3 linked regions of the Homo sapiens genome follow. The protein of the gene in region 1 interacts with the protein of each later gene in a pairwise test. Each region holds a gene or a part of one and is shown in the gene's direction. Other genes may lie near its edges. The genes, in order: F8, TSC22D2 and MAGEB6.

Region 1 (8,041 bases):
TTTTTCAAATTAAAAAGATCCAAGCCCTGTTGTGATTCTAACTGCAATTTCATTAAACTCAGACCTTAATTTTATTAATGTAATAAATTTAAATATTTTTCTTATTACATTTATCTCTGTGTATTTTATAAGTGTGATGCTATTGTTAATAAGATAGTTTTCTCCTATTTCCATTTATGAGTGCTTAGTACCAAATAGAGATAAGCTATTGGTTTGTGTATTTTCAGCTTTTTCTTTTGAGCCTGGGTCTCATTTTGTCACCCAGGCTGGAGTGCAGTGGGGTGATCTCACCTTACTGCAGCCTCAACCTCCTGGATTCAAGCAATTCTCCTGTATATCAGCCCCCCAAGTAGCTGGGACTACAGGAGCAGGCCACCATGCCCGGAAAATTTTTGTATATTTTTTAGAGATGGGTTTTTGCCATGTTACCCAGGCTGGTTTTCAACTCCTGAGCTCAAGCATTCCCCCCACCTCAGCCTCCCAAAGAGCTAGGATTACAGGTTTGAGCCACCGCACCCAGCCATTGTATATTCATCTTAAATCTAGCTACCTTACCAAATTTGCCTATTAATTCTAGTAATTTTACCCTAAAGTCTCTGTGAGTATTGAATCATATCATAAGTTAAATGAGACAGATTTTAGCTCATTTCCAATATTTATAGCCAGTTATTTCATTTTCTTATCTTATTGAATTTATTAGAAAACAAGAGCAAATGTTAAATAATAACAATGAAAGTGAACATTCCTTCTACTCTATGATTTTACTTGAAATAATTTTTGTATTTTGCTATTTAGAGTAACATTTGCTGTTTTGGTTTTTGTAAATGGTGTTTATTCTATTCTCATTTGCCACAAAATGTTTATCATAAATAAGTTTTCAGCAGCTGGTATCATCTGAATTGTCTTCTTTGATATGCTGATGAACAAATTATGTTCATAGATGTCCTGACACTAAATACCCTTACATTCTTGGAGTAAAATCTACTATTCATGGAATTTGATCATTAGTGGGTTCTATGTACTATTTCTTTAGACTATTCTTAGTAGATTTTCACTACTCAACCTACTAATAATAATAAACAAAGTTTTGTTGGCTTTATCAAATGAATTGATGAGTACTCCATCTTTTTCTATTGCTTAGAATAGCTTAAGTAACATTTGAATTATCCATTGTCTAAAAGTTAGGTGAGACTCACTTATGAATCCATTTGGTCCTAGTGGCATTTGCAATATCTTTAATCACCCCTCCAGGCTCTTCTATGATAATCAGTCAATTCAAGTTTCAACTTCCAATAATTATATACCTTTCTAGGAAGTAACTTTATTTATTTTTTCAATTTTGTTGCCACAGTGTTGCATGTAGCACTCACTCATGATTCTTTTACTCCACATTATCTGTAGTTATGTGCCCTTTCTTATTCCTAAATTCCTCTATCTTTGCTATTTATCTTTTTTTCCTTGAATAAGCTTGCCAATGACTTGTCTATTTTGTTGCTGGTGGTGCTCTTTTCAAAGAATGGGCTTTTGGATTTTTTTTTTTTCTAGTTGGTATAAAGCATTTTTATTTTCACTGAGCAGAAAAAGAAGCTATTGATTCATTAACTGTGCTGCTTTATTGGCATGTAGCTATGCACTGTTCACACATTAATATATAAAACTCGTCAGTCTGTTTTATTTTGTCTGATGGGAAAACATGAACAGTGAGATTTCTTATGCAAAAAGTGAACAGTTCAACTATGCTAGCTCCATATACCTTTATTAACATTCCAGAGACTTATCCTCTCAACATGATCTGATTTCTGTAGGATAACTTTTCAGGAAAAGTATTTTCTGATCAGTGAAGCTTGGAGATATAAATAAGCAATCGGCCAGGTATGGTGGTTCATGCCTGTAATCCCAGCACTTTGGGAGGCCGAGGCAGGCAGATCACCTGAGGTCAGGAGTTTGACACCAGCCTAGCCAACATGGCAAAACTCCGTGTCTACCAAAAAAAAAAAAAAAATTAGCTGGGCATGGTGGTGCTCACCTGTAATCCCAGCTACTGAGGAGGCTGAGGCAGGAGAATTGCTTGAACCTAGGAGGCGGAGGTGGCAGTGAGCTAAGATTGTGCTCAGCCTAGGTGACAGAGTGAGACTCCATTTCAAAAAATAAAAAAATAAAAAAAAGCAGTATCTCTCATATTCATTAACTGGACCCTGACTTTCTTAAAGCTCACCCCAAAGCTGAAGTCCATGAAGGCACTAGTTCTCAAACTTCAGTGTGCATAAGAATCACTCGGGAAGCTTATTAAAATTTACATTCCTAGGCCCCATCCTCAGCAAACTATTTAGTCCCCAGGTAATTCTATCCCACCCCACCCCAGCTTTATTGTGGTATAATTGACAAATAAAAGTTGTATATATTTAAGGTGTACAAGATAATGTTTTGATGTAAGTATACATTGTAAAATGGTATAGCATGAAGGGTTTTCTTTTCATTTTTTTCAGAATAGTTTGTAATATCTTCTTTGATTTCATCTTTGATAATCTAGACGTATGATTTTAATTGCTTTTTAAATTTGTTTATCAAGTTAGTTTGTAGTATTTGGGTCAACATTGAATATCCTGTTAATTTCCTATTGCTGTGTAACAAACTACATCAAATGTATCAGCTTATGACAGACCCATTTACTGTCTCACAGTTTCTGTGAGTTAGAAGTCCAGGTGGACTCAGCTGGATACTCTGTGCAGGGTCATACAAGGCCAACACCAAGGTTTTAATAGGGCTGCACTCCTTAGTGAAAGCTCTTGGGGAGAATCTGCTTACAGGCTCATTTGGAATGTTAGCAAATTCAGTTCCTTCTCTCACTTTCCATGTAGTGCCCTCTACCAGCAATGGTGCATCAACACTCTCTCATGCTTGGAATTGCTCTGACTTCAATTTTCCGTGCATATCTCTGGCCTTTTTTGCCTCTCTCTTTTACTTTTAAGGACTCATGTGATTACATTGGGCCGACCTGGGTAATTCAGAATACTCTCCCCATCTCAAGGTCAGCTAATCAGCCCCTTAATTCCATCTGCAAAGTTTAATTTGCCACATAATATATTTTTGGACATGACACCAAGGAGCAAAGGTGATGTGGGCCAAATTTTTACCTGCCACAGGTATAGTTTACATACAATGAAGCTCATCAATTTTAAATATGCAGTTTGATGAGTTTTGACAAATGCATACACTTGCATAACCACCACCCTAATCAACATGCATTTACATCAACCCTCCTGCAACTTTTTAATGAGTCTCTCCCACTGACCTGGCCTCAGCCAATAAACTGCTATCTGGAAGTTACAGATTTGTTTTCACATGTTCTAGAATTTTACATCAGTGGAATCATACGGTATGTATTCTTCTATGGCTTTTTTTCTTCAGCATCATGATTTGGAAATTCATGCAGGTTGTTGTATAAAGTATTTCTATCCTTTTTATTGCTGATTACTGCTCCATTATGGGATTATATCATAATTTTGGATTATTTCCAGTTAGGAGCAAATACAAATAAACCTGCTATGAACAGTGCTCCACATGTTTTGTGTGAACATCTATTTTCATTTATCTTAGTTAAATATCTAGGAGTGGAATTGCTGGATCATATGGTAAGTGCATGTTTAAGAGAAACTGCCAGACAGATTTCTTGAACGTACCATTCTATACTCCCACCAGCAATGCATGAGAGTTCCAGTTGCAATATATCCTGGACAACATTTGATGTTGCCAGTACTTAATGACTGCACAGTGGTATCTCACTATACTTTTTTTTTTTTTTGAGATGGAATCTCATCCCATCACACAGGCTGGAGTGCAGTGGCGCAATCTCAGCTCAACATCTGCCTCCTAGGCTCAAGCAATTCTCATGCCTCAGCCTCCTGAGTAGCTAGGACTATGGTCACACGCCACCGTGCCCAGCTAATTTTTGTATTTTTGGTAGAGACGGGGTTTTGCCATGTTGGCCAGGCTGGTCTCAAACTCCTGGCCTCAAGTGATCCACCCGCCTCGGCCTCCCAAAATGTTGGGATTACGGCTTGAGCCACTGCACCTGGTTATACTTTTAATTTGCGTGTCTCTGATGACTAAAGATGTTGAGCATCTTTGCATGTGCTAATTAGCCATTCCTATATCTTCTTGGAAGTGTCTATTCAAATCATTGGTCCTTTGTTTTTAAACGTAGTTTCAACTTTTATTTTAGACTGAGGAGGTACATGTGCAGGTTTGTTACATGAGTATGTTGCATGGTGCTGAAGTTTGGGTTACGAATGAATGATCCTGTCACTGAAGTAGTGAACATAGTACCCAATAGGTGGTTTTTCACTCCTTGCTACCCTTCCTCCTCCCTCTTTCCTCTAGTCGTCTCCAGTGTCTATTATTCTATGTCCATGTGTTCTCATCATTTAGCTCCCACTTCTAAGTGAGAACATATGGTATTTGGTTTTCAGTTCCTGTGTTAATTCACTTAGGATAATGGTTTGCCAGTTTTTAATTGGGTTGTTTGTCTTGTTATTGTTGAGTTTTGATAATTTTTTATATATTCTGGGTACAAGACTATTCAGAGGTACCTGTTTTGAATGTTTTTTTCCAATCTATGGCTTGCATTTTCATTTTCCAAATGGTGTCTTTCAAATAGTGGAAATTTATAGTTGTAGTTAAGTCCAATTTAGCTTTTCTTCTTCTATGATTCATGCTTTTTTTTCCCCTGTCCTAGGAAATCTTTGCCCACCTCAAGTTCACAAAGCCTTTCTTCTGTTTTCTTCTAGAACTTTTATCATTTTAGCATTAGTATTTAGGTTTATAATACATTTTGAGTTAAATTTTCTGTATGGTGTGACTTTTCTTTCTCTATTGAATTCCCTTGGTGCCTTTGTAGAAAATTAAATGACTGTATATAGGCAAATCTGTTTATGGATTCTCTAGTTCCATAGATGTGTATATCTGTGCTTATGCCAGTACCAGATTGTTTTGATTGTTGTAACTTTATAGTAAGTCTTAATATCAGGCAGTCTAAAACCTCCAACTTACTTTTTTATTGAAATTGCTTTTGATATATTTAGGCTTTTATATTTCTGTATTAATTTTATAGTCAACTAGCCAACTCCACCAAATAGCCAACTGGGATTTTGACTGGAATTGAATTGAATCTGTAGATCAATTTGGGGAGAATTGACATTTAAACAATACTGAATCTTTCAATACAACAACATGGTATGGCTTTGTTTCTTTAAATTTTCTTTAATTTCCCTCTAGGATATTTTGTAGCCTACAGAGTAGTTCTTGCAAGAATTATATTAATTGTATCCCCAAGTATTTTGAGGGATTCGATGCTATTGTTAATTGTATCATTTTTATTTGTTTTCGTTTTCCAATCATTTGTTACTAAAATATAGAAATTCAATTGATTTTTGTATATTGACCTTGTTCACTCTAATCTTGTTAATTTGCATTTTAGCTCTAGTAGCGTTTTGCACTTCTTTTAGAATTTCTACATATACAATAATGTTGTCTGCAAATAAAGACAGTTTGCTTCTTCCTTTCCAAACTGGATGCTTTTTATTTTTTTTTTCATGCCTTACTGTACTGGCAAGGGCCTCCAGTACAATGTTAGATAGAACTGATGATAGCAGAATCCTTGTCTTCTTCCTGATTTCAGAGGGAAAATATTCATTATTTTACCATTAAGTACAATTACTTGTAAATTTTTTCATAGATGCCCTTTGTCAAATTGAGGAAGTTTCCTTCTATTCTTGGTGTGAGAGTTTTTATCAAGATTTGATATTAGATTTTGTCAAATGCTTTTTCTGCATCTATTCAAATGGTCATATGGTTTATCTTGTTTATTCTGTTATGGTGAATTACCTTGATTGATTTTTTAATGAGGAACTAGCTATGTATTCCCAGGGAAAAAATCCACCTGGTTGTGACATATTACATTGGTAATATTTTCGCTATGGACTGAATTGTCTCCACCTCCCCCCACCCCAAATTCATATGTTGAAGTCCTAACTCTCAAGATGATTATATTTGGAGATAGGGCTTTTAGGAGGTAAACAAGGTTAAATGAGGCCATAAGGATGGAGTCCTAATCTGATAGGACTGGTGGCCTCATAAGAAGAGAGAAGGTTCTCTCTCTACACTCATGCACTGAGGAAAAGCCATGTGAACATACAGCGAGAAGGCAGCCATCTACCAGCTGGGAAGAGGGCTCCACTAGAAACTGACCGTGCTGGCACCCTGATATTGGATTTCCAGCCTCCGGAACTGTGAGAAAATAAGTTTCTGTTGTTTAAGTCACCCAATCTCTAGTATTTTGTTATGGCAGCCCTGGCCAACTAAAACTGTTTTGTTAAGGGTTTTGGTGGTGATGGTGGTTTTTTAGTTTTTGCGTCTGTGTTCATGATGGATATTTGGCTGTGATTTTCTTATAATGTCATTGTCTGGTTTTGATATAAGAGTGGTATTAGTCCGTTCTAATGCTGCTATGAGGACATACCCGAGACTGGGTAATTTATAAAGGAAAGAGATTTAATGGACTCACAGTTCCACATGGCTGGGGAGGCCTCACAATCATGGTGGAAGGCAAAGGAGGAGCAAAGACACATCTTATATGGCATGGTGGCAGACAAGAGAGCATTGTACAGGAGAACTGCCCTTTATAAAACCATCAGCCCTCATGAGACTTATTCACTATAATGTGAACAGCATGGGAAAACCCCACTGCCATGATTCAATTACCTCCCACCTGGTCCCTCTCACAGCACATGGGGATTGTGGGAGCTACAATTCAAGATGAGATTTAGGTGGGGACACAGCCAAACCATATCAAAGAGTAAGACTATTCTTTTTTTTTTTTTTTTTTTTTTTGAGACGGAGTCTCGCTCTGTCACCCAGGCTGGAGTGCAGTGGTGCGATCTCGGCTCACTGCAAGCTCCGCCTCCCGGGTTCACGCCATTCTCCTGCCTCAGCCTCCCGAGTAGCTGGGACGACAGGCGCCCGCCACCACGCCTGGCTAATTTTTTATACTGATAGTAGAGACGGGGTTTCACCGTGTTAGCCAGGATAGTCTCGATCTCCTGACCTCATGATCCGCCCACCTCGGCCTCCCAAAGTGCTGGGATTACAAGCGTGAGCCACCGCGCCCGGCTGACTATTCTTATAAAATGAGTTGAGACGTGTTCACTCTTCTATTTAATGAAAGAGTTTGTGTAGAATTGGTATCATTTCTTTTTTAAATGTTTATTCACCAGGGAAATCATCTTATCCCAGTGTTTTTTGTTTTGGTTTGGTTTTTTTTTTAAGGGTCTTAATTGTGAATTCTATTTTTAATAGGTAAAGGGCTATTTGAATTTTCTATTTCTTATAGGATAAATTTTAATAATTTCTTTTAAGAAATTCCATTTGAGACTGGGCATGGTGGCTCACACCTGTAACCCCAACACTTTGGGAGGAGGCAGCAGGATTGCTCTAGGCCAGGAGTTTGAGATCAGCCTGGGCAACATAACAAGACTTGACTTCTACAGAATTTTTTTTCATTAGCCAAGTGTGGTAACATATGCCTGTAGTCCCAGCTACTTGGAAGGCTGAGGCAGGAGGATCACTTGAGCCCAAGAGTTCAAGGCTGCAATTAACTATGGATCATGCTACTGCACTCCAGCCTGAGCAACAAAGCAAGGCTCTGTCTCAAAAAAAGAAAAGAAATTCCATCTGAGCTGTTGAATTTAATAGTATAAAGTTCAGAATATTTCCTTACCATTTTTTCACTCCTTGGAGGTATGATTTACATACTGTAAAAATCACTTATTTTCAGTGTGGAGATTCTTTTCCTTTCCTAAATCTCCACATTTTTATTGACATATACTTTACATATCATAAAATTCACCATTTGAAAGTGTACAATTCAGTGGTTTTTAGTGAATCCGTAAAGTGTACAACTATCATCTTTATTTAATTCCAGAATATTTTCATCACCTCAAAAAGAAACCCTGTAATCATTAAACAGTCACTTCTAATTTTCTTC
Region 2 (8,041 bases), on another chromosome or scaffold:
GTTGCAAGTAATCTCATGGTAAGAGTAAGGAAACCTAGGAGGAAAAGCTGTGGTGGAGAGCCAGTTAGGATCAATTAAAAGATGAACAGCATGGAAAGCCAACCTGCCTTACTGTAGCATTGATACTCTGAGTTATACTTTTTCTGTGAGTGTAAGTATAATTAGCTTTAAACACTGAATTCAAGCTCATTTAGTTATTTTGGAGCAGCAATTCCAGTAAATAAATATTTTCTTGTAGGTCTTTCTTACTTTCCACAGCTCTATATTTCTGTTCATTCTCTCCATATCCACAATTTTTAATGCATCTGTAAATGCTAATAAATGTTTGATTTTTATTCTAAGAATGATTCATAGTAAATAGAAAGTTTATTTTTAAAAATTATCTTTTGACTTTATTTAGCATTTCCAGTTTACCATAATAGTTTAAAAAAGAAAATTCTGAACTCATTTTTCCCTCATGCTTCTGTAGCAGTAATTGTAACACTTGATTTAAAATTGACTTATTTCAGTTTGAGTATGTATCTATACATACACACTAATCTGAAATATTTATACTACCACCATTGTAGGGTACCGGGTATATATACTTTGTGCTGGAAGTAAAGACAGGAAGCCTTTTCTTAGGGAGCTTAAGTTTGGAAACTGGTTAAACCATCAAAATATAATGTGCTGAATATAATAATTAAAAAGAAAACAAGGTATATAGTATTATAACATTAGGTGAAGGAAGGAAATTATTGATTCTGCTTCAGTTGATCTTTCTCATTTTAAAAGAGTCAAATCTCACTATGATAACTTTGAACATAATAGAAAACATCTTGATACCCTCATTGAAACAGTATTTTTAAACCATATTCTGGGATCTTGAAATAAAATAGTCTCTTATTTGCTTAAGACTACCATATTGGTATCTCCATCGTAAATATGGCTAAAGCAGTGGTTCTCATACTTTAGTTTCTATCTGAATCGCCTAGAGAGTTTGTTAAAATAGATTACGGGGCCCCGCCCCAAGAGTAAATCTGGGGTGGGTCCAAATATTTACATTTCTAACAAGGTCTTGGTGGGTCCAAATATTTACATTTCTGACAAGTTTCCAGGTGATGCTGATGATTCTGGTTCAGGGACTACACTTTGAGAACTGATTTATCTGAACTCAAAAAATTTTAATGCCTTCCTCATATGAACCATTAATTGTTTCAAATCTATCATATCTAATTACTATCAGTATGCATTGAGTTACTATGTGCTAAGCACTGAATTCACTTATTCACAAAGATGAAGAAGTTATGGAACCTTTCTCAAAGAGCTCAATCTAATAGGATCAACAGTGGTAGTATTACAATACTCAAAGTAATCACTGTCTGTATTGAGTGCTCAGTGTGCCAAGTACTATGCATTATGTAAACTCATTTAATCCTCACAATTGGCATATAATCCTTATTTTAAATGAAAAAACTGAGGTCTAGAAAGGTTAAATAATTTCCCAGAATTCATATAGTGAGTATATGGAGGAGCCAGAATTTGCTATTCTGCCTTTTTGCACTATAAAAAGTTTGCGAAGATTGGTAGACCCCAGAAAGGATGGAGTAATTGGCTCTACCTTAGAAAATCAAACAGCATCACAGAAGAGATGGCACTGGAGCATCTTAAGGGACAGGTCTAAGATAGCCAGATGAATTGGAACTGTGAGCATTTCCAGCTGAGGGAGCAGTTTCTGCAAAGCCAAGGAAACCCGAGAGAACATATGTTCCACAGACTACAAATAGTTGTATAAGACCATAACACAATAGGCAGATGGAGTATAAGAGGAAAACAGACTGTATAAGGCAGAGGTCAAAGTCATAAAGAATTTTATATGCCAGGCTAAAAAGTTTTAAAAATAGAATTAGGCTTCTTAATTTTTCCTCCTATAACTTTCATTTGTAAGCCAGCAGTTCTCAAAGCATAGTCAGACAGTAGATTCCACATCATCTGGGAACTTGTTAGAAATGCAGATTCCTGGTTCCATGCCTACTGAATCAGAAACTCTGAGTGGGGGAGCCCAGCAACCTGAGTTTTAACAAGACCTCCAGATGATTCTGGTGCATGCTAAAGTTTGAGACCCCTGCAGTAGGTTATAGAATTCTTGAATAATAGCCTTCAAGATAGTTAAAGGTCACTATAGTGGTAGTAATTATATTTGACACTGATTTATTCTATTAGAGTACAACACCTAACAGTTGAAATATTAACACCATTTAAGGGATACATCTTCATCATGATCTATTTATACCTTGCAAACCTGTTTCTTCTGTTGTCATAAAAGAGATCTTAGGACAAGAGTTTGTTAGGTCAGCATTCAAAGAATAGCATGCTAACTATTCTTCCTTAGCTATGGGAATCATTCTAAAACTCGCTGACTGATTTTAATTATCAAAAAAAAACCCCAGTAATTTTTGTTTTTTTTACTGCTTGTTAATACATAAAACTGATGTTGTAGTTAGTATTTAAGGTGTGCTATTTAAACCAAATGTGTTGAAGGAATCAAATGATTTAAGTCATGACATGACTTAAAAGTAATTCAATCTTTCCTTGTCATGTCAATAAAAATATAGAAAGTATAATCTGGGATTCCCAAGCAAACTAATTTAAATGCCTGTCACCGTCTTTTTTGCCAAAATGTGTTCAGTATTTGTGGTGAATATGTCTGCATGGTATCTGGCACTGAAGTATATACTAAAGCGTTATGGTTGACTTAGTGGTTCTGTAGTTTATAGTTACATATAGTCATACTTTGCACAGCTCACTAAAAGCATTTAAAGCCCAGCACATATAAAGTATTTGTTAATGATCCATAAATCCTTTCTAGATATTAGATATACAAAACCTCTTTTCATCTTAGAAATAGTAGCAGCAAGAAGTGAAGGTAGTATGCTGTAATTAATGTGGTTAATGCTCAAATAAACAAACGTAGTTTCCCATGTAATGATTCAAGATTTCAAGGATTTAGAAGTGGAAAGTCCATTGAGGCATTGACATCAACCCCTTGTTTTACAGATGGGGAAACTCAGATCCAGGGAAGTTAAATAGGTGATTTGCTGATGTCCCATAGGAAGTGAATAGCAGGATATCACAGGACAGGATATTTCTGAGCCTCAATCTGATACAACATTATGGGTCCACACCATCTAAAGTAAAGTAGTTTCCAGGTATTTTAGCACTAAAATCTTAGGTGGAGTATACTTTATGAAGAATATTTAGTAACATATAAAAAATTATCTTTTCGTATTGATACAATAAGCTACAGTATCAGATTTTTCTTTACAAGAGTAATTTTTAAAAACCTAATAACTGTTTTTAGAAATAAAATTCATTAAAAAACAATAAAAGGGTATAAATTCCAGCTATTCTTACTACTTAATACATGGTAGAATATAAACCACCAAAGAGGACAATTAGCCTTCTGTGTTATTATCATACAATTGCTAAGGTGATATTTGAACTTGGAATGTGCTTACAGGCTGGATAACTTTTCAGTTATTCCCAAGAAGAACTGATCTAAACCACACATACCTTATAGGTGATTTTTGCCAGCAAGTAACCTACAGTCAAATACATGTAGGTCTGCCAGAATGTTGTTTCTTTTTGTTTTTTTTTTTTTTGTTTTTTTTTGAGATGGAGTTTTGCTCTTGTTGCCCAGGCTGGATTGCAATGGCGTGATCTCGGCTCACTGCAGCCTCTGCCTCCTGGGTTCAAGTGATTCTCTTGCCTCAGCCTCCTGAGTAGCTGATTACAGGCACCCGCCCCAAGCCTGGCTAATTTTTTTTGTATTTTTAGTAGAGATGGGTTTTCACCACGTTGGCCAGGCTGATCTGGAACTCCTGACCTCAAGTGATCCACCTTCCTTGGCCTCCCAAAGTGCTGGGATTACAAGCGTGAGCCACCACGCCCGGCTGAATGTTGAGTTTCTTGTTAACCAATCCTACCCAAAGACTTTCTGAACCATTTTTAGAAGCCATTAAGTTTTTTTTAAAAAACTAGATGTTAAAGTATAAAACTTATACCAGAAAAGTCTTACTAAGAGGAGGGACTAGAAAAAAAAAAGTCAAGCCATCATCTGAATTTTACTACAATAAGTAATTATTGGAATTTCTACATGAAAGGCAATTAGAATGTATAGTTGGTTAATGTAGAAATTTAAGAGATACGGAGAAGACACTGCCCATTTAAAATGTATCCTTTTAAAACCACTGAACAGAGAAATTCTTAATACAATTGAGAGTTAGTTTTAAAGTAGCATACATGTATTACAGGCAAATTAGAAATGTTGGCACTACAAAGGACCTGTAGAAATCATCTATTTACTGAGACTTTCATTTTAGAAATGAGAGCTTTGAGTACTGAAATTGTCAGAACAGAATAAGCTATTTTAAATTACTGTATATTTGGTTTTAAGTGAAACACAAATGTCTTTTACATTCTTTTAAGAGTTGGAAGGGAGGTTAAATTTTTTAGAATAATAACATATTCTAATTTTTTCCAGTGCATCTGGGGGAGGTGTTGTAGCCATTGACAACAAAATAGAACAAGCAATGGTAAGTAAAAGTTTACAGTTCTCCCATTTCATAGATTGTTGGTTGTATGGAACACTTAGCTTTTGTCAGTTTTAGAAAACAAATAAGTTATTTAAACCAAAGATGACCAAATCATGTTTTTTGATAATGAGATTTAGTTGAAGATGCTAGAACGTTGAGAACTTTTAGTCTAGAAATACTATTTAAGTAGATATTTCTTCCATTTGAATATCTCACATTTCATGCATTATCATTGATAAGGGCCATTGGTGAGGGGGCATACATATTTAAAGACAATATGTTCCCCAGATATTTCAGCATTGAAAATACTTTAGAGTGAAAAAGAGTATTAAAGCAAAAACAGCTGGAGGTCTGATTGAAGTAGACTGTAAGTAAGCTATAAGTAGGCCAGGCACAGTGGATTGTGTCTGTAATCCCAGCACCTGAGCTGAGGTGGGAGGATCACTTGAGGCCAGGAGTTTGAGACCAACTTGGGCAACATAGCAAGACCCCGTCTCTACAAAAAAAGTTGGTATTTTTGTTTGTTTTGAGATAGTCTCGCTCTGTCACCCAGGCTGAAGTACAGTGGCATGATTTTGGGTCACTGCAACCTCCACCTCCCAGGTTCAAGTGATTCTCCTGCCTCAGTCTCCTGAGTAGTTGGGAGCACAGGCACACACCACCACATCTGGCTAATTTTTGTATTCTTAGTAGAGACGGGGTTTCACCATGTTGGCCAAGGTGGTCTCAAACTCCTGACCTCAGGTGATCTACACGCCTCAGCCTCCCAAAGTGCTGGGATTACCGGTGTGAGACCTTACAGGACTGTTAGTCTCAAACTATTTTTTTAAAAATACCAAAATTTTAAAGTCCAAAATTACAGATCACTTTAAAGCAGTACTATGACTAGTTTAACATCAAACAGCTTTCCGTTGGAATATTGTTCCTTTGTTCTCTTTATCTACCATTTTAAGCATGTGATTTTAAACTTTTTTTTTTTTTAATTCTAAGCTTAGTTGACAATTTAAGAAGCTAGTATTTTTTGGAAATCGTCCCAAACTTTGAAAAGAAAATTCTGGGCTTACTGCTCTGGTTGGGAACTGGATTTTTTCCAACCCATCTTCCATAGGCTCGGTCAAGATAAAGCAGAAACATTAAAAGCAAGAGCAGGAAAACTAGTATAAAAACTTAGCACCAAGTAGGCCAGAACCAGATAGCACCACCTTTATCTTTTCACTCTTTTGACATTCCTAATTTTGTTTTTCACAGGATCTGGTGAAAAGCCATTTGATGTATGCAGTAAGAGAAGAAGTGGAAGTTTTAAAGGAACAAATAAAAGAATTAGTTGAAAGAAACTCTTTACTTGAACGAGAAAATGCACTGTTAAAATCTCTTTCAAGCAATGATCAATTATCCCAACTCCCAACCCAACAGGCCAATCCTGGTAGCACTTCTCAACAGCAAGCAGTGATAGCACAGCCTCCGCAGCCAACGCAACCTCCACAGCAGCCGAATGTCTCCTCAGCATAAAGCTTTCTTAAGCCTCATTAAGAAAAAAACTGAAAGCAATCTATCCTTGTGTGCCACTGGTGTTCTTTCCACTTTATACGAAAGCAAGTAGCCATGCTTTGGTTGTGTGTTTGGCCTTTTCAGTATTAGACAATCATTCTACAAGAGCTTTTCCTCTCTCTGAGATGTCATGCAGCGCTGTTGATGTCCAGTTCTATGTCATCAGTACACAAGGAGAATAATAGATGGGGTTTATTAAAGCGAGCAAAGTCTGCATTTTACCTGGTGCGCATGAGTGGGGTCTTTAAGAGTTTTGGTGGCTCTCCCATGTTTCCTATTACCCATGGATTTACCCTGAGCCTTCCTATCACATTATAAATAACAGTTCATCTAAAGAGCCACTTTTCTTTCTGATTCAGTAACATTTGCCTACATAAGTTTTCATTTATTTGTGTTTTATTTATTACAGGGCTGCTATTTTCATAATGTACATGAACAATGTCACAGAACTTTTTTAATTTTTTTGAATAATTATAAGTATCAGTAAAGGAAGTGAAAGACAGGATTGCATTTAATAGATAAAACGTTTAGGCAATAATTGAACAAAAGAATCCTGGCATATTTCTAACACTAATGGCAATTTACTTATGGTATTTATTTTCAGTAGTAAAGACCCAGCTTGAATGTAAATTTTGTATAGTGTAAGTATGAAGAACATAGTGCAACTGTACAGGTAGTCACCAGTTATTGTGATATGATAAATAATTGGGCTATTTTGATGAAGAAAACTTTGTTCATTTGTTTCTACTTTCTAAGAGAAATTGCCACGATTCCTCTGCTTTTCAACATTTCGTATGACTTTTTTTTCGGGTGGGAATAAAAAGCTGTGAAATTGTTCAACCTACTTTGTAACCAAAGAAGCAAAGCTGTGTAATGGAGTTTGGTTTTTTTTTGTTGTTTTTTTTTTTTTGTCTTTTTTTTTTTTTATAATGCACATTCTTTATGTATTTTTATTTAGTGTTTTCTCAGTCACAATTTTCTTTACTGTCTAGCATGATCTGCATGACCTATAATCTTTGAACCACTTTCGTACCTCATGTTTTTATCCAGCACTCTTATTGTAATATGTACTAGTCTGTGAACAATGTCAAATAAAAGAGAACGAACAGGTAGTTTGGTGGAGCTGAGCTAGTGTACAATACACTAGTTGTAAAAAAAAAAAAAAAAAAAAGTGAGCCATCTTTTGTTCATTTAAAATGGTGTTTTGAATTTCGTATGCAGAAAACGTTTTGTTACATTGCAGATTTTAATGTATTTAATAAATGCAACATGCAGATTAAGTGCAGTGTATACTGAGTATTTAAATTAAAATGTACATTTCATAAATACAGTTTCAAAAGAAAGCATCATTTTGTGTATACTAACACATTAAGTGTATGTCAGAAATTGATGTATAAATATATATTTTAACATTTTCTGAAATTAAACTGCAGTTTTGTTGAAATATTTGGCTCTATATGTGTTCAAAATTTGACTAGATTTGTATTTTCACAGTTCAAAATACTCCTTAAAGACCTGTTAATAATGACTTACTGATAGTTCTTAAATTTTCAAAGTAAAACAATTTAAAGAATGCAAAAATAGTGAGCAATATTTGTACTCAATATTCATATTATGTTAGTGATACTTAAGTAGGAAATCCTTGTCTACCAAAACTTTTACTTGAATTCAGAAAGGTGCCTGTAGAAATTAACATGCACTGCATCTGTAGCCAGCTAGCTAATCAGAGTTAATGAGAACCAGTAGTTAGTTCTCCGTGTTAAAAGACTTATTTGAAGTAAAAATTTAATCAGATTAGCCACAAACAAACAAGGCATAAAATTGGGATGTACATGAGATTGCCAAATATTTTCTATTCTAGTTGTGCTGCAAGACATTGAACAAAATGTTAATGAATAACATTATAAATCAAGGAACTA
Region 3 (8,285 bases), about 130 Mb from region 1:
GCCATCACTGATTATTCTATTGACATTAAACAGATAGTAAAGGAATGTTATGAAAAATTCTATGCCCACCAACTTGGTAACCTAGATGAGACAGACCAATTCCTTGAAAGACACAATCTACCAAAACTCACACAAGGAGACTGAGATCATCTTAATAGGCCTATATCTATTAAAGAAATTGAATCAATGACTGATAAGCTTCCAAAAGAGTAAACAACAGTCCCAAATGAGCTCACTGGTGAATGCTGTCAAATCTTTAGGAAGGAATGATATCAATTCTCTACAAACAAGCACAAAGATGAAAAGATGCTTTATATCATGGATCATTAGGGAACTGCAAATTAAAACAACAATCAGATATCACTACACATGTATTAGAGTGGATAAAATCCAAAACACTGACAAGACACATACTGGAGAGGATGTAGGGCATAGAATCTCTCATTCAGTAATGATGGCAGTGCAAAGATGGTACAGCCTCGTTGGAAGACAGTTTGTCAATATCTTACAAAATTAAAATACTCTCGTCATATGATTCAGCAGTTACTCTCCTTGGTATTTAGTCAAATGGGTTGAAAACTGATGTCCACACCAAAACTTGAATACAAATGTTCAAAGCAGCTTTATTCCTAATTGTCAAAACTTAGCAGAAACCAACAAGAATTAAGTGTCCCACAAGCATACAATGAAATATTGTTTAGTGATTAAACAATGTGTTATTAAGCTATGAAAAGACATGCAGGAGCCTAAATGCATATTGCTAAGTGAAAGTAGCCTATTTGAAAAGGTTACATGCTGTAGGATTCTAACTATATGACATTCTGGAAAAGGCAAAATTATGGAGACAGTTAAAAAAAGGGGGGTTCTGGGGGGATGGGGGAATAAGGGGAACACAGTGGATTTTTTTTAGTATAGTGAAACTGTTCTGTATGATACTGTTATAGTGTGTACGTGTCATTCATTTTAAAAAACCCATAAGATATATAATAGAAAGATTAAACTCTAATATAAATGGTTAACTTTAATTAATAAAAATGTATCAATATTAGCTCATCAATTTTAACAAGTATACCACATTAATGTGTGATAATAATAGGAGAAACTGTGTGTGAACCGATGAGAGGGTATAAGAGAATTCTTTGTATTTACCACCGAATTTTTCTGTAAACTTGGAAACTGCTCTACAAAATAAAGTATGCCCATTAAAACTCCATCCCTGTGTTATATATTTAGAGTAGTTTGTTTTCCTGGAATAACCCATGAATATTTGCAGTTAGCTAATTATTTGTATTGATTTTCTCATCTGAAGCTCTTTCAGCCATTAACAATTTTAAGCAGCCATTTTAAGAATGGCTGCTTAAAAAAACATCCATTCTGTCATTAGTAATTAAATTTGCTCAAGTGTCTTCTATCATTAAGTAAAATATAACACAACACAACATACCATGGCTCTTTAAACCTCCTTTAAATAATTCTCTGTTTCTGTCCTAAATAAATTTTACACTCCCTAGTTTTTGTATGCATAAACACACACACAAAATATATACATATATTTATATTTAGATATTGAAAATATTATAGAGCATTAAGAGATATATGTTCAGCTTGTAAAAAAATTGAGCTCTACACATAAAGTTCTATTAGCATAATTGTTGAAAAGTAGCCCAAGCAGTACTTATGGGGATATTTATTGCATTAAATAGATTTACTATAAAAAAGTTTGAAACATTGTAACAATTCAAGAAGCTAGAGAATGAATAGCATATTAAACACAAAGAAGAAGGTAGGAATAATGAAGATAAATTCAAAAGTGATAAATGAGAAAATAGTCAAACCAACTAGTAAAAGCCAGTTCTTTGAAAGGATTTATATAACAATGTGTATGAGTACCATCAATTACAAATGAAAAAAGCAGAAATAAATGATATTAGATAAGTAAAATTATACAAAACTTAGGTGTAGAAAAGATGTAATACTAATAGAGAACACCGTAAGTGTTATCAAGTATTATCTGTATCTCAAGATAACAAATGATGGACAAGGAGAAGGTTCTATCTGAAAAATTTCGGGTAATAAACTCAAAAGAATTTTAGAATCAGAGAATTACCATCTTGCAACCCATGATAGATTAATGGATAAAAGTGATGGCTGCCAACATCATCACAAAAGAAACAACAGAAATTATATATCTCTTAATGAAACTGCACCATATCACCTCTGGAGTGCACTTGCCAATAAACTTTAATATGAACAATATTCTACTCATAAAAATTGAAGATTATTAGTGACAAATCTTAGCTAATTGAGTTTATTATTCTATTCTCTGTACTACTGCATATATTTGAGAATTTCCATAACAGGATTTTATTATGAATATCATGCTTTTAAATATGAAAACCTAAGTAAAATGGAACAATTTTTAGCAAAATGAAAATGACTCATAAAAATACAGAACTCTTTGAATGCACAGTAGAAAATGAAACTATAGTCCAAACCCAAAGTACCTTCAAACTGTTTTAGGACCAGCCAGGTTTAGAGACCCATTACATCAAATGGTGAAGAAGAAACTAATCACCACTTCATGTAAACTCTTCCAAACAACACGAAAAGATTGGGAGAATTACTCCATCATTTTAACAAGCTTGCTTTCTTTGACACAAAGACCAGATGAAGATAGTCCAATAAAACAACATTTGAGATCAGTTCATTCACATAGAGACAAAATATTCTCAATAAATTCATAGTATATCCAATATAGGCATATCCAATATAGCAGTGAATTAATGAATAAATAGCCTGCATCCAAGAAATGCAAAGATGATACCATATTAGAAAATACCATCAATTGGAAATCACTATGTTACCAAAAATGGTGAAAAAGCATGTGATCATGTGCAGGGGTAAAGGAGAAGCCTTAAAAAACCCTCAATACCAGTGTATGATAGTAACTTTTAGCAAACTTACATTAGGAGAGAATTTCCATCTTGTAAAATCTATAATTGACATACTAAATGTGAAACATTACAAACATCCCGAATAGAGTCCAGAAGAATATACACCTGTATAGTATAAACCCTACTGCTGACAACTGGATGAAAATACATCTATAGTTCACAACTATAATAATAATACCGAGTAAATTAGAGGTAACAATAACAAAAGGAGATAATTGTGATAATATAATCTCCTAATTTAAAAATAAAACAACGTAATTGGTGCAAAAATATTTAAATGTATAAGGAAATAAAGAAAACGTGTGTACAAAAGATCACCATAGGTAAGTCAGGAGTATAGTCACACAAAATCAATAACTAATTATAATATGTAATGTGAAATATGCCTTTCACAACAGCAACAATATCCAAAATATATCTAACAGAAAACCAAATAGAAATGTACATGTTCATTAAGGAGACAGCTATAAAAATTTACTGAAAGACTTAGGAAAAATAAATCTCCAATAAAGCAGTGTACTATGTTTATTTACTGTGGAGGAGATATTGTAAAGTTATTGATTCTCCTTAAATTTTTTACAGATTCATTGCCTTAGCCATAGCTGTGAAGATGACAACCAAACCCGGGTGGTTCTTTCCCATGACCAAACTCAACCATAGAAAAGTTAAAGGAAGAATTTTTTTTTAAAAAAAAAGCAGTATTAACAACAGCAAAACAACAAAAATGCGAACCTTGAGAGATGGTCAGTTTGTATTGAACAAGAATGGGTGTGTGGGCAGGTAGGGGCATGAGCTGAAGTAGAGACAGGTCTGTGGCCTACAACAGACGCAGATAACGGAATTGGCTAGAGGAAAAGCTTTAAAACTTTGGTCTTTGCTTCTTTCACTGTGCCATTGGACAATGCATTTTTTTTTCTGCTTCACTAAAGGAAATTCAGTCAGAAACTTGGACCCTATGTGCCAGTTCCATGGGGTAATATTGCCACAGCAAAAACATCTGGGTAGGCTGAAGAAGTATGAATCCAGACACTGTGCTAATAACTACCTGAAACTTCTTTAGTGGAAGTGGACTGGCCTTTAAATTCGTATTATTTTAATATAATATAAAGAATGGACTAAATTAGGATAGCAAATATTGCAGTGAGTCACACAAGATAATGGTAGAAATTCATTCATGAAGGTGTTGAATACAGACACTGATGTCAGCCAAGAGAGAAGTCCCAGACATAGCTATCAGGCTAAGAAGTCTTCTCACTTTCTCCTTATGAATTTTACAGGATCTAGTCAGAGGAAGGGGATGAATTTACATCAGAAAATGGAGAAAACTGAGACCCTGCCAGCAGTCAATGTGAGGACCCTGAGTGAGGACTGAGGGGCTCCACATATCAGAAGAGACAAGAGTGCCCCCCAAATCTCCCTTCATTCCCCGATCTTGCATCACAACTTAATAGCAGCAGCCAGGTTTAGGAGGCCCCAGGCAGTAGTGGCCAGGTGAGGTGTAACTGAATTGCACATGAGGAGTCTCAGGAAGTTGAAGTCTAGTCTGAGAGGGTGTCCTCAAGTCAGTAGAGGGGACATGGCAAGAATGAAGCGACGACACTGAGTGAGGGCTGAGGGCAAAGTCCATTCCAAAAAGGGGGTCTCACAGAGCTCCACCCCTACTGTCAGTCTTGGAAGGTCCCGGCATGGCTCCCGAGCTCAGGCTGCACCTTACTTCCAACTCTGGACTCTCAGGGAATGAGAGCCTCTATCTCCGGTTGACTGATTCAGCTCAACAGATAGAGAAGTCCAAGGGTCCGCGAAGAGCCCCTGAAAGAACTTTACGTGAGTTCCCTGGAATCTGCTGCACCCACAGAACACAAGGGGGAGTAACAGAGCCCTGCAGCTACTGTTACGCAGGGAGCGCCAGGTGGGCGTGGCCGGAAGTGGTTCCTCTTGACTTCCACCTAATAAAGGGGTCTGAGCCGGTCGCCTGAGCCTGAAAAGTGCTGTCACGTCAGCGGAAGGAGGCGTCCCAGATCTTCTCAGCTGTCTTGGTGGGTATCCTGACCTAGAACGGGGGGCATTCCCCGACAACTTCAACCCCCTTCCCCCGAAGAAAGGCGGCTCCACAGAGCCCTGCCCCAACCTGCCCCGACCTGGTCCCTGAGGAGTCCCCAAACATGGCTGTTAGGCCCAAAGTCCATTCATTTTTTTCCGTCGTGTTGAAGAACATGAAGGCCTCGGTCCAAGGCTTGTGGACCCAGGTCAGTAGAGGGAGAAATCTCAGGCCCTACATAGTTAAGAGGACCCTCCTTAGAATTGAGGGAGGGGATTCCATGTCCCGTAACGGGTTGCACCGAACTCTGCCCTTGACGTTAGCCTGGGGGTCCGGGCAGGTCTCTAGAGACTGAGGTGCATTCTCACTTTGTCCCTGTGAGAGTCAGAGAGGTAGGCCCCTGGTTGTAAGGAGATGGCAGCAGGTCAGTGAGGGTGATTTCCAGGTTGTGGGAAGAGTCAGGGTGAGGAGTCTAATTACTGTGAGGAGCATTCTCACTATAACTGGAAGAGCACTCAAATGCCTCCGCTGTTGTCAGCCCTAGGTGGTCTGGGTGTCCCCGGAATGAAGTGTTGGGCAGAAGTGCTTCCTTATTTCCTCCGGGTTAAAATTCCTACTGTCAATTTCAGAGTGGCACAAGGAAATGGGCCTCTGGGTCTTGTCAACAATTTTTTTTTTATTATACTTTAAGTTTTAGGGTACATGTGCACAATGTGCAGGTTTGTTACATATGTATACATGTGCCATGCTGGTGTGCTGCACCCATTAACTCGTCATTTAGCACTAGGTATATCTCCTAATGCTATCCCTCCCCCCTCCCCCCACCCCACAACAGTCCTCGGAGTGTGATGTTCCCCTTCCTGTGTCCATGTGTTCTCACTGTTAACTTCCCACCTATGAGTGAGAACATGCGGTGTTTGGTTTTTTGTCCTTGCGATAGTTTGCTGAGAATGATGGTTTCCAGTTTTAATGATGATCCTGAATGTAAACAGAGAGGATCCAACCCCTGAACAGAGGGGCCCCCACTGCCAGCCCCTGCTGTCACCTCAGTAAGCCCCAAAATGGGCTGTCATGCTATAGTCTAATACTCTAACTTCCTCCTGAGTTTGAAGGAGACAAACTGACCAGGAGAAAAGGAGTCCTGTGGGTTCCTAGAGCAGCTGTTCTGCGGAAACCTGCAGAAGGGGCCCTAGTTAAAGCCAAGATGGTCGCTCTCTGCTGAAGATATTGACGTGACGTCACTCTCTCCCATCCAGGTGCCAGCCTTCCTAGTCTTCCTACCCACACTCCTACCTGCTGTCACAGGCCACAGCCATCATGCCTCGGGGTCACAAGAGTAAGCTCCGTACCTGTGAGAAACGCCAAGAGACCAATGGTCAGCCACAGGGTCTCACGGGTCCCCAGGCCACTGCAGAGAAGCAGGAAGAGTCCCACTCTTCCTCATCCTCTTCTCGCGCTTGTCTGGGTGATTGTCGTAGGTCTTCTGATGCCTCCATTCCTCAGGAGTCTCAGGGAGTGTCACCCACTGGGTCTCCTGATGCAGTTGTTTCATATTCAAAATCCGATGTGGCTGCCAACGGCCAAGATGAGAAAAGTCCAAGCACCTCCCGTGATGCCTCCGTTCCTCAGGAGTCTCAGGGAGCTTCACCCACTGGCTCTCCTGATGCAGGTGTTTCAGGCTCAAAATATGATGTGGCTGCCAACGGCCAAGATGAGAAAAGTCCAAGCACTTCCCATGATGTCTCCGTTCCTCAGGAGTCTCAGGGAGCTTCACCCACTGGCTCGCCTGATGCAGGTGTTTCAGGCTCAAAATATGATGTGGCTGCCGAGGGTGAAGATGAGGAAAGTGTAAGCGCCTCACAGAAAGCCATCATTTTTAAGCGCTTAAGCAAAGATGCTGTAAAGAAGAAGGCGTGCACGTTGGCGCAATTCCTGCAGAAGAAGTTTGAGAAGAAAGAGTCCATTTTGAAGGCAGACATGCTGAAGTGTGTCCGCAGAGAGTACAAGCCCTACTTCCCTCAGATCCTCAACAGAACCTCCCAACATTTGGTGGTGGCCTTTGGCGTTGAATTGAAAGAAATGGATTCCAGCGGCGAGTCCTACACCCTTGTCAGCAAGCTAGGCCTCCCCAGTGAAGGAATTCTGAGTGGTGATAATGCGCTGCCGAAGTCGGGTCTCCTGATGTCGCTCCTGGTTGTGATCTTCATGAACGGCAACTGTGCCACTGAAGAGGAGGTCTGGGAGTTCCTGGGTCTGTTGGGGATATATGATGGGATCCTGCATTCAATCTATGGGGATGCTCGGAAGATCATTACTGAAGATTTGGTGCAAGATAAGTACGTGGTTTACCGGCAGGTGTGCAACAGTGATCCTCCATGCTATGAGTTCCTGTGGGGTCCACGAGCCTATGCTGAAACCACCAAGATGAGAGTCCTGCGTGTTTTGGCCGACAGCAGTAACACCAGTCCCGGTTTATACCCACATCTGTATGAAGACGCTTTGATAGATGAGGTAGAGAGAGCATTGAGACTGAGAGCTTAAGGCAGGGCTGGCACTATTTCCTTGGCCAGGGTACCTTATGGGGCCATATCCTACAGATCCTCCCATTTCTAGGGAGGTCTGAAGTAGAATTTTCACTTTATGTTAGAAGAGAGTAGTGAGCTTTCTAAGTAGTGCAGTATAGTAGAGGCTGGAGGGAACAAGATATGTATCTTTCTTTTGTTACACATGAGTAACTTGCAGATTTATGTTTTATCTCTGTCAGTTATCAACATTGTTCCTGTTAAGTGAAGGTTTATTTTGCTTCAGATTATACAATTATCAATAACATAGCTCTCACATTCATGGCTGTTTAACCAATCTGAAAGTTACGGTTTGGGAATTAATAAAACAAAGTCATACAACACATTTTCTTTGTAATTGAGAACTAGATAACATGGTAACAGAGAATTGATTTTCATATGAATCTTAACTCCACAGTAAAATAGTTGACATCATAATATGAAGAGAAAGAAAAGGAAAAACAGAAATGTAAAAGTTGTTTAATTCTTGGTTTGCCTAATTCGTTTTCCTATTTCTTTTCATACAAATAAAGGATACCTGGATTTATTTAGGTTATTAAGACTGCCGTTAGTTTGTTTTGTTCTAGTGCACTTCATATTCCATGTTATCTACTGCATCAAAAAACCCCTCTGATTGGAGGGTGGTATTTTCTGGGTTTAAAATAATCACATGAAATGCAGTGATCAATATAAGCCAGAATGAGTTCACTAAAAACCTTTTTGAAACAAGGC

The links.
Region 2: the proteins of F8 (region 1) and TSC22D2 interact in a two-hybrid assay, tested with the Homo sapiens proteins (one study listed by BioGRID).
Region 3: the proteins of F8 (region 1) and MAGEB6 interact in binary tests that used the Homo sapiens proteins (3 or more experiments, as listed by UniProt).

Annotation. Positions count from the first base shown.
Region 1 is NC_000023.11:155,011,993-155,020,033, reverse strand, and holds part of F8 (coagulation factor VIII isoform a preproprotein), read left to right. Parts: intron 1-8,041. UniProt on the Homo sapiens protein: Factor VIII, along with calcium and phospholipid, acts as a cofactor for F9/factor IXa when it converts F10/factor X to the activated form, factor Xa.
Region 2 is NC_000003.12:150,452,554-150,460,594, forward strand, and holds part of TSC22D2 (TSC22 domain family protein 2), read left to right. Parts: intron 1-4,522; coding exon 4,523-4,574; exon of another isoform or gene 4,575-4,579; intron 4,580-5,822; coding exon 5,823-6,083; 3' UTR 6,084-8,041. UniProt on the Homo sapiens protein: Reduces the level of nuclear PKM isoform M2 which results in repression of cyclin CCND1 transcription and reduced cell growth.
Region 3 is NC_000023.11:26,187,538-26,195,822, forward strand, and holds MAGEB6 (melanoma-associated antigen B6), read left to right. Parts: upstream 1-4,902; 5' UTR 4,903-4,990; intron 4,991-6,248; 5' UTR 6,249-6,309; coding exon 6,310-7,533; 3' UTR 7,534-8,109; downstream 8,110-8,285.